Regions from separate parts of the Homo sapiens genome. Here all the other regions are linked to region 1. The links come from fine-mapping of genetic effects on gene expression. A gene starts in region 1. Each other region holds a variant in brackets. All regions are shown on one strand. Distances are from middle to middle.

Region 1 (4,213 bases):
GCAGCAGTTCAAAAAAGTTGTTTTGACTCTCATTTTTTTCCTTCTCAGCATCCACAGAGTTCGCTTCTGTGTGAGAAACTCTTAAATTATTGTTTCTCTTGGAGTTTTTATGCATAGCTTAATGTTTTAAGTTATCCTCATATGTAACCTAAAAGGCAAAATTTAAACATGCTCAGTCTCCAAATAGGAGTATAAATCCTACTTTAAGTCAGATGCTTTTTGGGTATAATTTAAGAACTCTTTCTTGACTTTAGCTTCTCAATCTGTAAAATGGGCCAATGCTGCCGCTCTCCTGAAAGTTCTTGCAAGGATTAACAGTGATAGTGGGTAAAATATCTAGTCTTGCTACATCTGAATTGCACATGGGAGGCACCCAACATGTTAGTTTCACTCTCACCCAGGCTGGAGTGCAGATGTGTCATAATAGCTCACTGCAGCCTCAAACTCCAGCCTCAAGCGATTCTCTTGACTCAGCGTACCCCGCCCCTCTTTAAAAAAAAAAAAAAGAAAAAAAAAAAAACAGAAAACCAAAAACTGTTTTACGGAGAAATGGTTCTTGCTATGTTGTCCAGGCTGGTCTTGAACTCTTGTCCTCAAGCAATCCTTCTGCCTCAGCCTCCCAGAGTGCTGGGATGACAGGTATGAGCCACCATACCCGGTACTTTTGTACCTTTGAAAATGTATATGAGTCAATCCTATTAAACTCCTGAATACTTGTTGTACATGGGAACTGATGCCTCATCATTAATTTGCAATTTGTGACTTAATCATAAACTTGCTGGACTTCTAGTTGTTTATATAAGAATTTTATCTACTTGTATCTTATAGGTAGGTAGGTGCTTACATTTGACACAACTACTATCTGAAATGGACAAGAAGATGAGATCTGGATTATGAAACAAAGTCTCAAATATTCAACTCAGTCATAAGAGTAGTGTTTTAGAAATGGCCCCTTGAAGCTATCCTACATGCATAATTACAAGCTAAGGATAATAGTCACTGAAGACATCAAGCAACAGTGAGTGACAACTGTAAACAATGTTTAGAACTCAGCTAGGTACAGTATGTGACTCTTTGAAGCCCAGATTTAAAGCTCAGTTTCAGCTAATTTACCTAAGGTGAATGGTGTAGGCTTCCCAAATCAGTTGAAAGCATGACTGGGTACATCACCATCCTTGAGTTACTTTTGTATATAAAGACAGCTTGTATTCACTTAAAATCAGTTTATTCCATTTTGCACTTCCTTTTATAACGGGGGTTGGTTGTGCAAGAGGAGAGGTTTGAGGTAAATACTTCTTTTAACTCAGCTGAACACAAATCTCTTTTCTAGACGAGCTACTCAGCTATGTTTTCGGACTTGCCAAGACCACGGTGGCTCCCATTCATGATCCAGATTAGCTGTGGTGGCTGGAACTGCAGTCTGTGTTCAACAGAGGTCTTCTTCTTGAGGGTTAGGAGAAGTAAGAAAGCAAACGTAAAAACGGGTGAGTCAAGAGCAAGTTTTTGCCATGCACCTTGGCCCCTCCCACCACCAATACAAACCAAAGCCAAACCACAACGTTCTTGAAAAGAATCTCACATTAGGAAAACGTTACAGTGCATTTAAACGTTACAGTGTGTTTATCCACTTCTCCCAGGATCTTACTGGGAGAATAAAATGCGTCCCCTTGTGGAATTCCTGTAACGGGAATGAAGGCTTTTGAATTTCACAGCAGGGGATACCTTTGCGAGTTTCTAAAATCCCACTAGGAATCTTTCTTCTACGTCCAGGTTCGCCTGGATGCCTGGAAACGACCCCTCTTCTGCCCTTTCTCCTTTATGAACTGAGCTTTCCTGAATTCTCTCTCAAGTGAAGTAAAAGCTCGTCCCCCTTTCAACTATCATTCGGAGGGATAGATCGGCGGCAGCGCAGTCGGAGGGGCGGGGAGCCCCACTCCGTCCAAATCCCGCGGGTCAGGGCTAATCACCCCACGTCCCGTCTGAGCCACCCTCCTTGTGTCCCGCGCGGGTTGCAGCTGCTGGAACCCAAGAACACAGGGCACTGACAAGTGACAACAACCGTCAGCGTTGACTGTCACTGCGGCTCCAGGCCGCGGAGGGAAGGCTGAGCTTGCGTCCAGGCCGCGTCCCCGGGAGCGTAGACACCTAAGCCAACGGGAACGGAAGACCCTTCTACCTACTAGGCCGCGGTAGCTTCTCCTCCCGCGATTTAAATCCACCGGAATTCGAATCCTTCCCCATAGCTCTTCGCATCCCGCCCACCTGAGTCCCGCCCTGCTCAGAACTCGCGCAGGCGCCGAGAGGGGCGCGCAGTGCCTTTGGGGATTGGTAGTTTTTTCCAGGGCGTCTCCGCTCGGGAAAGGAAGTGAAGAAAGCCACCAGGACTACAAGGCCCGGCGTCCTCCAAGATGGGAGGGAGGTGAAAAGGGTGTTGGGGAATAAGCCGGGGTTTTTAAACAGTAGTTTTGAGGCGGCGAGACTGGGGAATCCCCGGTTGCGTCATTAGTAGGCGTGGAGGGGCGGGACTCGTGAAGCTGCGCTGGGGCCGGGCTCTGAGAGGACCGGCGCAGCCGCGGGGAGCCTTTGAGGCCCTCCCTCGGTGTTTTTTCCCAGGGCGTGGGCTTGCCCCGCGCGTGTCTGTGGAGGGCGGAAACAGCGGAGGGGCCAGTCTCCTGGCGAAGGGGCCTAATCCTTGCCCGCCATGTCCGGGGGCTTCGAGCTGCAGCCGCGGGACGGCGGTCCCCGGGTGGCCCTGGCGCCCGGGGAGACGGTGATCGGCCGCGGGCCGCTGCTGGGAGTAAGTGTGGGCGGGGGCTTAGCGGACCCCGAGAGCCGTGGAGTTCCGCGCCGGCTCCTGAAGACCGGCCCTAGTCCTGGCCGGTTTCCCCACCGCACTGGTCCGCCGGTCCGGATTTTAGAAGTTTGGGGCCGCACGTTTTTCAGTTACCTTTAAGCCAATTCACAAACATTTCTTTATGTTGCTTTTAAAACACTGACTGTATTACCATTATTATCTTATCCAGGGATTGGCAAACTAGTGCCTGGGGGCCAAATCCAGCCTATGTTTGTATGGCCCCATGAACTAAGAATGATTCTTAAATTCTGAAATGTAAAATGTAAACAAAAAATCTACTAATTTTTCAGGGGGAATAGTTGCTCCAAGGGTTGAGGGTATTGCGGCTTGTCTTGTAAAGCCTAAAATATTTACAGTAGTGTCTGGTCCTTTACAGAAAAGTTTGCCAAACTGTGATATTACGTCTTCTAGGCTAATTTCTTTTAACCTTTGGTCTCCTTTGCAGAGCTGTGTGGACCTTATTTATTTATATTATTTATTATTTCCAGTAAAATGAGTAGCTAACCCTTCATAAGTAATGTGTATAGCGTTCGTGTCATTGGTCTAAGGAGACATTACCTATACCAACATCTTTAACTGTCTCAAGACCGTATCAGTTAGCTATTTTTATTATCCTCATTGTTCAGATGAGAAAATTGAGCCATACATACATTATTTAAAGTCCATACATAAGCTTTTGGACACATAATGCCACAAAGCTAAATATTCTCTACCTTCTTTGGGAGAGGTTTAGGAATAAGAACATTTGCATATTGCATTCTGGAATTCTATAGATCTCTTAAGTACATCTAGTTTTCTATTTTGTTCTTTAACATTCAACATTTCTTGTTTGGTGCTCACTGTGTAGAACATTTTGCAGATTCTAGCACTGTGGGGCATACAAAGATGAATGGAACATGGGTCCCTACCCTTTAGGAGTTTTCTCTTGGGACCGGGGAGACACCTGTGTCAGTGAGCTAACACCAAGGAGTAAGGAGTGTGTACTGTTGTCCTGGTTAACTTCCAGAGTCTAAATGGAACCATTGGTACTTGCCTTAGGTCCCTTCTGGGAGCAGGGAAAGGAGTGGTAGTTTAAGATTGTATTATGGAAGCTGGTCCTAAAGGGGTGTGTGTGTGTGTGTGTGTGTGTGTGTGTGTTGTGTGTTGTGTGTTGTGTACATGCACATGTGCATGTGGTAAGGTTATTGAGGAAGTAGATATTCAATTGCTGTTCATTTTTTTACTGGACAAGTGATTATTTAAATATTTAACATCATTTCTATTTTTTTCATCGTTTGTTGGCCTATACAAACACTGGAAGGAACTGTCTGGAGGCTTTATTTTTCTTTTAAATTCGTAGGTTTGAAACTTAAGAGTATG
Region 2 (4,244 bases), 27 kb after region 1:
ATTTTAAAATGTTTTATAAATTGGCTTTAATAAAGGTGCTTAGTTGGAGTTGTGTCTATACTTGGCTGAAAATTATTCAGATATATTTTGTACTTTTGTGGCTATTCAAAAGAGTACTAATAAGGCTGGGCGCGGTGGCTCACGTCTGTAATCCCAGCACTTTGGGAGGCCGGGGTGGGTGGATCACGAGGTCAGGAGATCGAGACCATCCTGGCTAACACGGTGAAACGCCGTCTCTACTAAAAATACAAAAAATTAGCCGGGCACGGTGGTGGGCGCCTGTAGTCCCAGCTACTCTGGAGGCTGAGGCAGGAGAATGGCGTGAACCCGGGAGGCGGAGCTTGCAGTGAGCCGAGATTGTGCCACTGCACTCCAGCCTGGGCGACAGAACGAGACTCCGCCTCAAAAAACAAACAAAAAAAGAGTACTAATAATGTAAAATAAATATGCCCAAATTAAAGGTGATTTTATTAGTTGAAAATCTTACCTTGAGTTAAATTTTATCCAGTATGTACTGAGCCAAATTTCTATGTGAGATTTTAGCAGTGTTCAGTTATAAAAAGGCTCCTTTTTAAAATACTCTTCACTTTTACTGGGTCTTTAATTAGATGGTACGCAGATCATAAAACCACTATGTATGACATTAACAGGTGTCTTTTGAGCACAAAACTGTAGTAGAAATAATACTAGAAGCTAGAGCAAAAATTCCTCATGACCACTAGATATAAAACTAAAATTTGGAATGATTTATTTAAGTTATACCTCTGTTTATGATCTTTTAAATATTATTTAGTGTAATTTTGTAAACTTTCCCATAAATGTGATGTTTAGACATGGGAGAAAGGTAGCTCTTTTTTATCCTTTTTCGAGTACCTTTTTTTGACAACTTAGAATGTCATAGCCTTCTGGAGAACGTCTGATCTTAAATACTCAGCAAATTCTAGAATGGGAATGAGAGCCCAGGTTCTTTGAACTCTGTAGTATTTTTTTGTTGTTGTTATGTTTCTGAAGTCAGGATTCTCTTGGCATTGGGTGTCTTTTCTTTAAAAAAATTTCTTCAAGTTACAACTAATTGATGATCTGTCTTAACAAGAAGTTTTAGTGCCTTCAGTTGAATAATATTTTAGAACTGAAAGCAACCTTAGATTTGGACTTATGTATGTGGAAATTTGACTGGGCCAGGGCTAGCATTGCGTATCAGTGGGGAAGAGGAGTTTTTATCAGTAAATGGTACTGGGACAGTTATCTGTTTGGAAAAAAAAATTAGATCCCTACTGCAGACCCAAAAATCTACTCCAGGTAGATTAAATGTGAGAGTCAAACTATAAAACTCTTAGAATATAATATAGGGAAAAACCCTTATGACTTTAGAGTAGGGAAGGGTTTTTAAACAGGATATAAAAAGCATGAACCATAAAAACAGTTGGTAAAAGCCAATGAAATAAAAATAAGAAACTTCGTTTATCAAAAGACACTATAATGAAAATGATAACTACAACAGGGAGAAGATATTTGAAACACATGTAATTGGAACACGTAATTAGGCCATTCATGCATTGACATAAAGAAATACCTGAGACTGGGTAATTTATAAAGAAAAAAGATTTAGTCTGTGTGCTGTGGCTCACACCTGTAATCCCAACAATTTGGGAGGTGAAGGCGGGCAGATCACTTAAGGTCAGAAGTTCAAGACCAGCCTGGCCAACATGGTGAAACCCTGTCTCTACTTAAAATACAAAAATTAGCCAGGCGTGGCCAGGCGCGGTGGCTCACGCCTGTAATCCCAGCACTTTGGGAGGCTGAGGCGGGTGGATCA[C/T]GAGGTCAGGAGATGGAGACCATCCTGGCTAACATGGTGAAACCCCGTCTCTACTAAAAATACAAGAAATTATCCAGGCGTGGTGGCGGGTGCCTGTAGTCCCAGCTACTCAGGAGGCTGAGACGGGAGAATGGCATGAACCCAGGAGGCGGAGCTTGCAGTGAGCTGAGACCACACCACTGCACTCTAGCCTGGGTGACAGAGTGAGACTCCGTCCCAAAAGAGAAAAAAAAAAAATTAGCCAGGCGTGGTGGTGGGTGTCTGTAATCTCAGTTACTCGGGAGGCTGAGGCAGGAGAATTGCTTGAACCCCAGGGGGACAGAGATAGCAGTAAGCTGAGATCGCACCACTGTAATCCAGCCTAGGAGACAGAGTGAGACCCCGTCTCAAAAAAAAAAAAAAAAAAAAAAAAAGAAAAGAAAAAAGATTTAATTGGCTCATGGGCAAGCTTTACAGGAAGCATGGTGCCATCATCTGCTAGGTTTTTGGTGAAGCCTTAGGGAACTTTCAATCATGGCAGAAGGCAAAGGGGAAATAGGCATGTCACATGTTGAAAGCAGGAGCAAGGGAGAGGGAGTGAGGGGAAGGTGCCACACACTTTTTTTTTTCTTCGACTTTTAAGCTCAGGGATACACGTACAGGGTGTGCAGGTTTATTACCTAGGTGAATGTGTGCCATGGTGGTTTACTGCACAGATTATTCCATTATCCAGCTATTAAGCCCAGCATCCATTAGCTATTCTTCCTGATGTTCTCCCTCCTCCCACCCTCCACTCTTTAGTAGGCCCCATTGTGTGTTGTTTCCCACCCTGTGTCCATGTGTTCTCATCATTCACCTCCCACTTATAAGTGAGAACATGCAGTGTTTGGTTTTCTGTTCCTGCATTAGTTTGCTGAGGATAATGGCTTCCAACTCCATCCATGTCCCTTCAAAGGACATGTTCTTGTTCCTTTTCATGGCTGCAGAGTATTCCATGGTATATATATACCCCATTTTCTTTTTCCAGTCTATCATTGATGGGCATTTAGGTTGACTCCATGTCTTTGCTAAGCCACACACTTTTAAATTACTAAGTCTCACGAGAACTCATGCACTATTTGGAAGATAGCACCAAGCCATGAGGTATCCCCACCCCCATGATTAAAATACTTCCCACCAGGCCCCACCTCCAGCATTTGTGGATTACAATTCAACATGAGTTTCAGGTGGGGACAAATACCCAAACTGTGTAATTCTTCCCCTGACCTGTCCCAAATCTCATGTCCTTTTCACATTGCAAGATACAATCATGCCTTCCCAATAATTCTCCAAAGTCTTAACTCATTCCAGCATTACCTGAGAAGTCCAAAGTCTCACCTGAGACAAGGCAAGTCTCTTCTATTTATGAGCCTGTAAAATCAAAAGTTATTTACTTCTAAGAAACAATGGGGGTATAGGCATTGGGTAGACATCCCTGTTTCAAAACAAAGGGTCTGTAGGCCCAACACAAGTTCAAAACCCATTAGGGCAGTCAGTAAGTCTCAAAGCTCCAAAGTAATCTTTGACTCTGTGTCCATATCCTGGGCACACTGATGCCAAGGGTGGGCTCCCAAGACCTTTGGCAGCTCCACCCCTCTGGCTTTGGAGGGTACATTCTCTGAGGCTGCTCTCACAGGCTGGAGTTGGTAGATATACTATGTTTGGGTCTAGAGGATGGTGGCCCTCTTCTCACAGCTCTACTAGGCAGTGTCCCAAGTGGGGACTCTGTGTGGGACCTCCCATCCCACATTTATTCTCTGCACTGCCCTAGTAGAAGTTCTCTTGTAAGGGATTTGCCGCTGCAGCAGGCTTCTGCCTGGATACCCAGGCTTTTCCATGCATCCTCTGAAATCTAGGTGGAGGCTGCCAAGAATCCACCACTCTTGCACTCTGTGTACCCACAGGCTTAACACCGTGTGAGAGCTGTCAAGGCTTATGGCTTGCATCCTCCAAAATGGCAGCTCAAGCTGTATGTGGGGTCCTTTGAGCCATGGCTGGAGCCAGAGCAGTGGGAATATGGATAGCACTGTCCCAAGGCCATGCAGGGCAGCAGGGCCCTGGGACTAACCCATGAGATCATTCTTCTCTCTTAGGCCTCTGGGCCTGTGATAAGAGGGGCTGCCATGAAGGTCTCTGAAATGCATTTGAGGCCTTTTCTCCATTGTCTTGGATATTAGAACTTGTTTTTTTGTTTGTTTGTTTTTTGTTTTTTGAGATGGAGTCTTGCTGTGTCACCCAAGCTGGAGTGTAGTGGTGTGATTTCAGCTCACTGCAACCTCCACCTCCTGGGTTCAAGCAGTTCTCCTGCCTCAGCCTCCCAAGTAGCTGGGACTACAGGCGCGTGTCACCACGCCCGGCTAATTTTTTTTGTATTTTTAGTGGAGATGGGGTTTTGCCATGTTAGCCAGCC
Region 3 (4,244 bases), 31 kb before region 1:
TACTGTGTGATTCTTGTATTAATCTGTGTGCAAACAAATGCTTATATAGCATTTACTTTTTAATTCATTCAAAATGAAGTTAAACACGTTAGAAAGAGTTGTTACTACAGGGTATTCAAAAATGGGAAAGTATCTACCCTAGAACTTTGTTTTTTTACTTTTTTTTTCAAGAGTAGAGACAGGGTTTCACCATGTTGCTCAGGCTGGTCTCAAACTCCTGGGCTCAAGCCATTCTCCCACGTCAGCCTCCCAAAGTGCTGGGATTACATGAGCCACCATGCCTGGCCTAACCTACAACTTTGAAAAGAATGCTCTCAGGTAGCCATTTACCTCCTGTTAGATAAAAGGGCTGGGGAGAGTGTTTGCAAGACGTTTGTTCTTCAGATTCTAAAAATATGTCCTTTAGTCAAGGTTGGGGTATTCACTCTTCTTGGAAGATTAATAATTAGGCTGTACCTAGTTACCATAAAAATATTCTGATCAGCTGTTTTTATTCATTGCATTCAATTAATTGATATGCATTCAAAATACTTATCAATTAATCACTACATGCCAGGCAATATTTTAGTTGCTGACCTCCTTGAGCTGATATTCTTACCAAATAGCTTTATCTATTTATGATGTTTATCACATTATAAATATGTCATAATGATATTATGACATTAATATGTGAGATAATAGGAATAGAGTCAAGGGTCAGTGGCCAGTGGTGTTCTCTTGGCAAGGCTAGACAGGGAAGTCCTTGCTAATAAAATGGCACTGGAGCAGAAACCTAAAGGAAGAGAATGAGCCATGTTGACATCTGGGGAAAAAGCATGCTAGACAGAGGAAACTGCAAGTGCACGGCCCTGAGGCATGAGTCTGCCTGAGGAGCATCAAGATCAGTATGGCAAAAGCACAGTGGGCATGGGAGATGGGGAGAAAAAGGGCCTGAGGGTGAGATGAAAGTAGCAGTGGAGTGGTGGAGTAGTGAGCCATCAGAGCCAATTGGCCTACTGGTTCCATCATTTGACCTATGAGCAGCACTTGATGTCAATAGTCCCTCCCTTCCTCCTTGCAGCATTTCACTTTACTTCCTAGTTTCCCTCTGTCTCACTTGTCTGTCCCTTTGCTGGCTTCATCTCTGGAGATAGAGTGACTCAGAGCTCAGTCCTTGGACCTCTTTTTATCTACTTAATCCTGTGTTTCAAGAAGTCTCAAACTTTTTAATATAAACCAATGAAAATGATGATTCTCCTGCAATGATTGGTGTTATTGCTGGACATGTTATAAAATTTAAATTCAAAACCAAAATATTTTGTAAGAATATAATGCATCTGAGTGTTACAGTTACCAGGAATGATCTCTCCTTAAAATAAAACATGAAGAGCACTATGAATGTATCAGTATAAACAAAATATGGCCCCATTGCTTAATCCCTACACAGTTCTATGCACTCCTTAATCAATTGGCTAAACAAGTTGTAGCAGCAGTTGACTTAGTCCTGCCAAATGTTGAAAGGATTTTTTGAAATGTCAATTTTAAAAACATCCAATTTTTTTAAAACCTCCCTTGGACAACCAGGAAGATTGGATGAAAGACTTGGTTTTTTGATTGACATTGTAACTCATCACATTTTGACCATACCCTTTCATGGGTATTCATAAGTGGTTATATAAACACATTGTGTAATCCACTCATTCCTAGTGAAATTGTTTCTTGAGGGAAATCAACTGGCAAATAATTTGACCCATTTTGCTACACTGAAGTCAGTTTCCAAAAATAGAAATCATGGTATGAAGTACATTTGTGAGGCTGAGGACTAAATTTCAAAAAATTATCTGATTTCAAACTTTATGAAAATGAGTTAAGACTATTCTTTTTACCATCTAACTTAATACTGACAGTGTGGAAAAATTGCTACAAGAAGTTACTAAACAGTTGTTAAAGGAGATCACAAAAAAGAAACAAAGTTATTTTAGAAGAGCAGAATTTTATAAATATCTTAAGAGTGGTTAGCCTAGATATGAAAATCATTGTGCAAAGATTGTATCCATATTTGGAAGTACCTATACTTATTATCAGCTGTTTTCACTATGTATAAAAATAAATCTCTCTCCTACGTAAAGGATTGAAGGCTCA[A/G]CTCTGTGTTGTAAACTGAATAAGAAACACAAGACCTGACAGTGATAGCTTGGTGAGGAAGAAAATGTGTGAGGTTTTAGCTTCAAATAGAAGAAATAACAAGTTTAAAAAAGACAATGTCGTTTAACAGGGAAGCATTTCTGTGTCTTTCCAGATAACGACAATCACTCTTAGCCTTGGGAGAGATTCGGATCTGTTACAGAAGCCACGTGAGAGTGAGAGGAAGATAATATTCCAACTCTGACATTCTTTAAGCTTGACAGCAAGGCTTACAATCCAGTCACTGGTGGGAGGGAAAGGGTTTCCTGTTTTCAGACCTGGAAATTCAGATGGTGGAGCTCATGTAAAGAAGATGCTCCAGCTGGGATGCCAGGTGATGAGGCCAGAAGGGGGTGGTGGTGACAGAAACCTGCCCCTCCTTGTTCTGGTGCTATGGGAAAATCAGGGAGAGAGAATCAGGAGGGACAGAAAAAACCCTAGGCCAATCCAATAACAATGTGTCGTGCTCGAGCCTCTGAGCCATGGTGTGGAGAGTGGGAAGCTAGATAACTTGGAGACAGAGTGGCTTTCCCTGCTTACAGTTTGAGATTCTGGAGGAGACGAGGCTCCATGTCAATGTAGGGTGAACCAGCCCAGCCAAGACAGCTGCTGGGTGTGACCAGGAAGAGAGTAGCTCTGATTTAAACTCCAAGCCTCTTTGTTTCAGATTGAAAGGCAGAGGGTTTATCATTGCCCCTGCCATTGGGAGGAGTGGGTTGCCCCACAGCAGACATTGGAGGGAGACCGACTGGCTCTGTGGGACTACATGGACTTGGAAGAGATTTTGGTCAATAGCCAGGCAATAGCTAAGGGTAGGCCTGATTAGCATGAGATGCCAGTCTCTCCCACACCCTGTCCCCCTCCCCCAACACTTACTGTTTTGTAGAGAAGAGGCCATGCGTGCATCACCTGAAAGGCAGGAGTAGATGCCAGCAGAAAGCCCAGGGACACCATCAGCCAATTATACTCCAGCAGACGTAACACCAGATACTGTGCTGCTTGGGATAGCAATGATGGAAGAATGGATGTTATATGACTTCTCCTGGCTCAAAGTCACTTGAGCATTTTCCTCAAAAATCTGATATTTAATCATTGTTATTGGATTGGCCTAAGGTTTGAAATGGATTGAATATTAAATATTTTTCCCTTGCTGAAACCCAAAGGTTGGAGTCTTGGGGGAAACACCTGCTCTCTTATATCAGTTTTAAAAAGAAATGACACTTTTCTGTATGTATATAGGTTGTGTAAAAAAAATAATCCTTGGCTGGGTGCGGTGGCTCACACCTGTAATCCCAGCACTTTGTGGGGCCGAGGTGGGCAGATCACCTGAGGTCAGAAGTTCGAGACCAGCCTGACCAACATGGTGAAATCCTGTCTCTACTAAAAAAAAAAAAAAAAGAAAAAAAAAAAGAAAAAAAAAAATTAGCAGGGCATGGTGGTGCATAACTGTAATCCCAGCTACTTGGGAGGTTGTGGCAGGAGAATCAATCACTTGAACCCAGGAGATGGAGGTTGCAGTGAGCCGAGATCACGCCATTGCACTCCAGCCTGGGCAACAAGAGCAAAACTGCGTCAAAACAAACAAAACAAAAAAACCACAACCTCTCACAGCATTCAGGATAACTAAATATTTAATTTTTCAATCTGTGTTCCATTTCACTGGCAAAATAAAATTTGCTATGTTATATAAATATGTGTGAGATTATGTGCTCGTGCCATAGTTCCATAAAAATAAGGCAAGTCTGGTTATGCCTTTCGTCAGGTGATTTTTCTTTCATCGAGTCTGTTTTATTCCTGTTTGTCACTGCCTTGGCCTCTGGAGGCATTTGGGGTTTATGCATTTCTGCATTTAAGGAAATCAAATACCTCGTCAGGAACTCCTTGACATTGTGAAGGGAATAAGAAGGGAGGAGAGCAAAGAAAATTCACACACAAAACTCACCCAACAAAATGATTTGTTAGTAATTTCAAAGAAAATGGACATGAATCCAGTAAAAAAAAAATGCATAGAAGTAGGCTTGTAAAGAATGGGTCTGCCACATTCTATGGCAGTTTGTAGGACAGAAAAACACCATATAGTTCCT

Which allele goes with the higher level. Positions count from the first base shown, and alleles are read on the strand shown. Sizes are in standard deviations (SD) of each study's normalised expression. Not every link is listed here.
As copies of G replace A in region 3, the expression in thyroid of the gene that starts at base 2,264 in region 1 goes up (large effect, 0.88 SD a copy in GTEx).

The links. PIP is the estimated chance that this variant, and not a neighbour inherited with it, causes the effect. A credible set is the group of variants that fine-mapping cannot tell apart.
Region 2: its variant is the best candidate, but not a certain one, in a credible set for the expression of FBXO48 in whole blood (TOPMed, PIP 0.82).
Region 3: its variant is the best candidate, but not a certain one, in a credible set for the expression of FBXO48 in thyroid (GTEx, PIP 0.62).

The regions. Positions count from the first base shown.
Region 1 is chr2:68,465,031-68,469,243 of GRCh38, forward strand. It overlaps FBXO48 (F-box protein 48), which reads right to left and starts at 2,264. Exons shown (of 4, transcript NM_001024680.3): 1 at 2,181-2,264; 2 at 1,114-1,440; 3 at 1-148. The coding sequence starts at 115. It overlaps APLF (aprataxin and PNKP like factor), which reads left to right and starts at 2,555. Exons shown (of 10, transcript NM_173545.3): 1 at 2,555-2,797. The coding sequence starts at 2,702. RefSeq lists enhancers at 1,345-1,404, 1,498-2,393, 2,394-3,288 and a silencer at 2,630-2,839.
Region 2 is chr2:68,492,074-68,496,317 of GRCh38, forward strand. All of the region lies in intron 2 of APLF (aprataxin and PNKP like factor), which reads left to right. Among named protein-coding and RNA genes, the nearest start is that of APLF, 27 kb to the left of the region's middle. The variant C/T (reference allele first, on the strand shown) is at 1,817.
Region 3 is chr2:68,434,113-68,438,356 of GRCh38, forward strand. No RefSeq gene overlaps it. Among named protein-coding and RNA genes, the nearest start is that of FBXO48, 31 kb to the right of the region's middle. The variant A/G (reference allele first, on the strand shown) is at 2,122.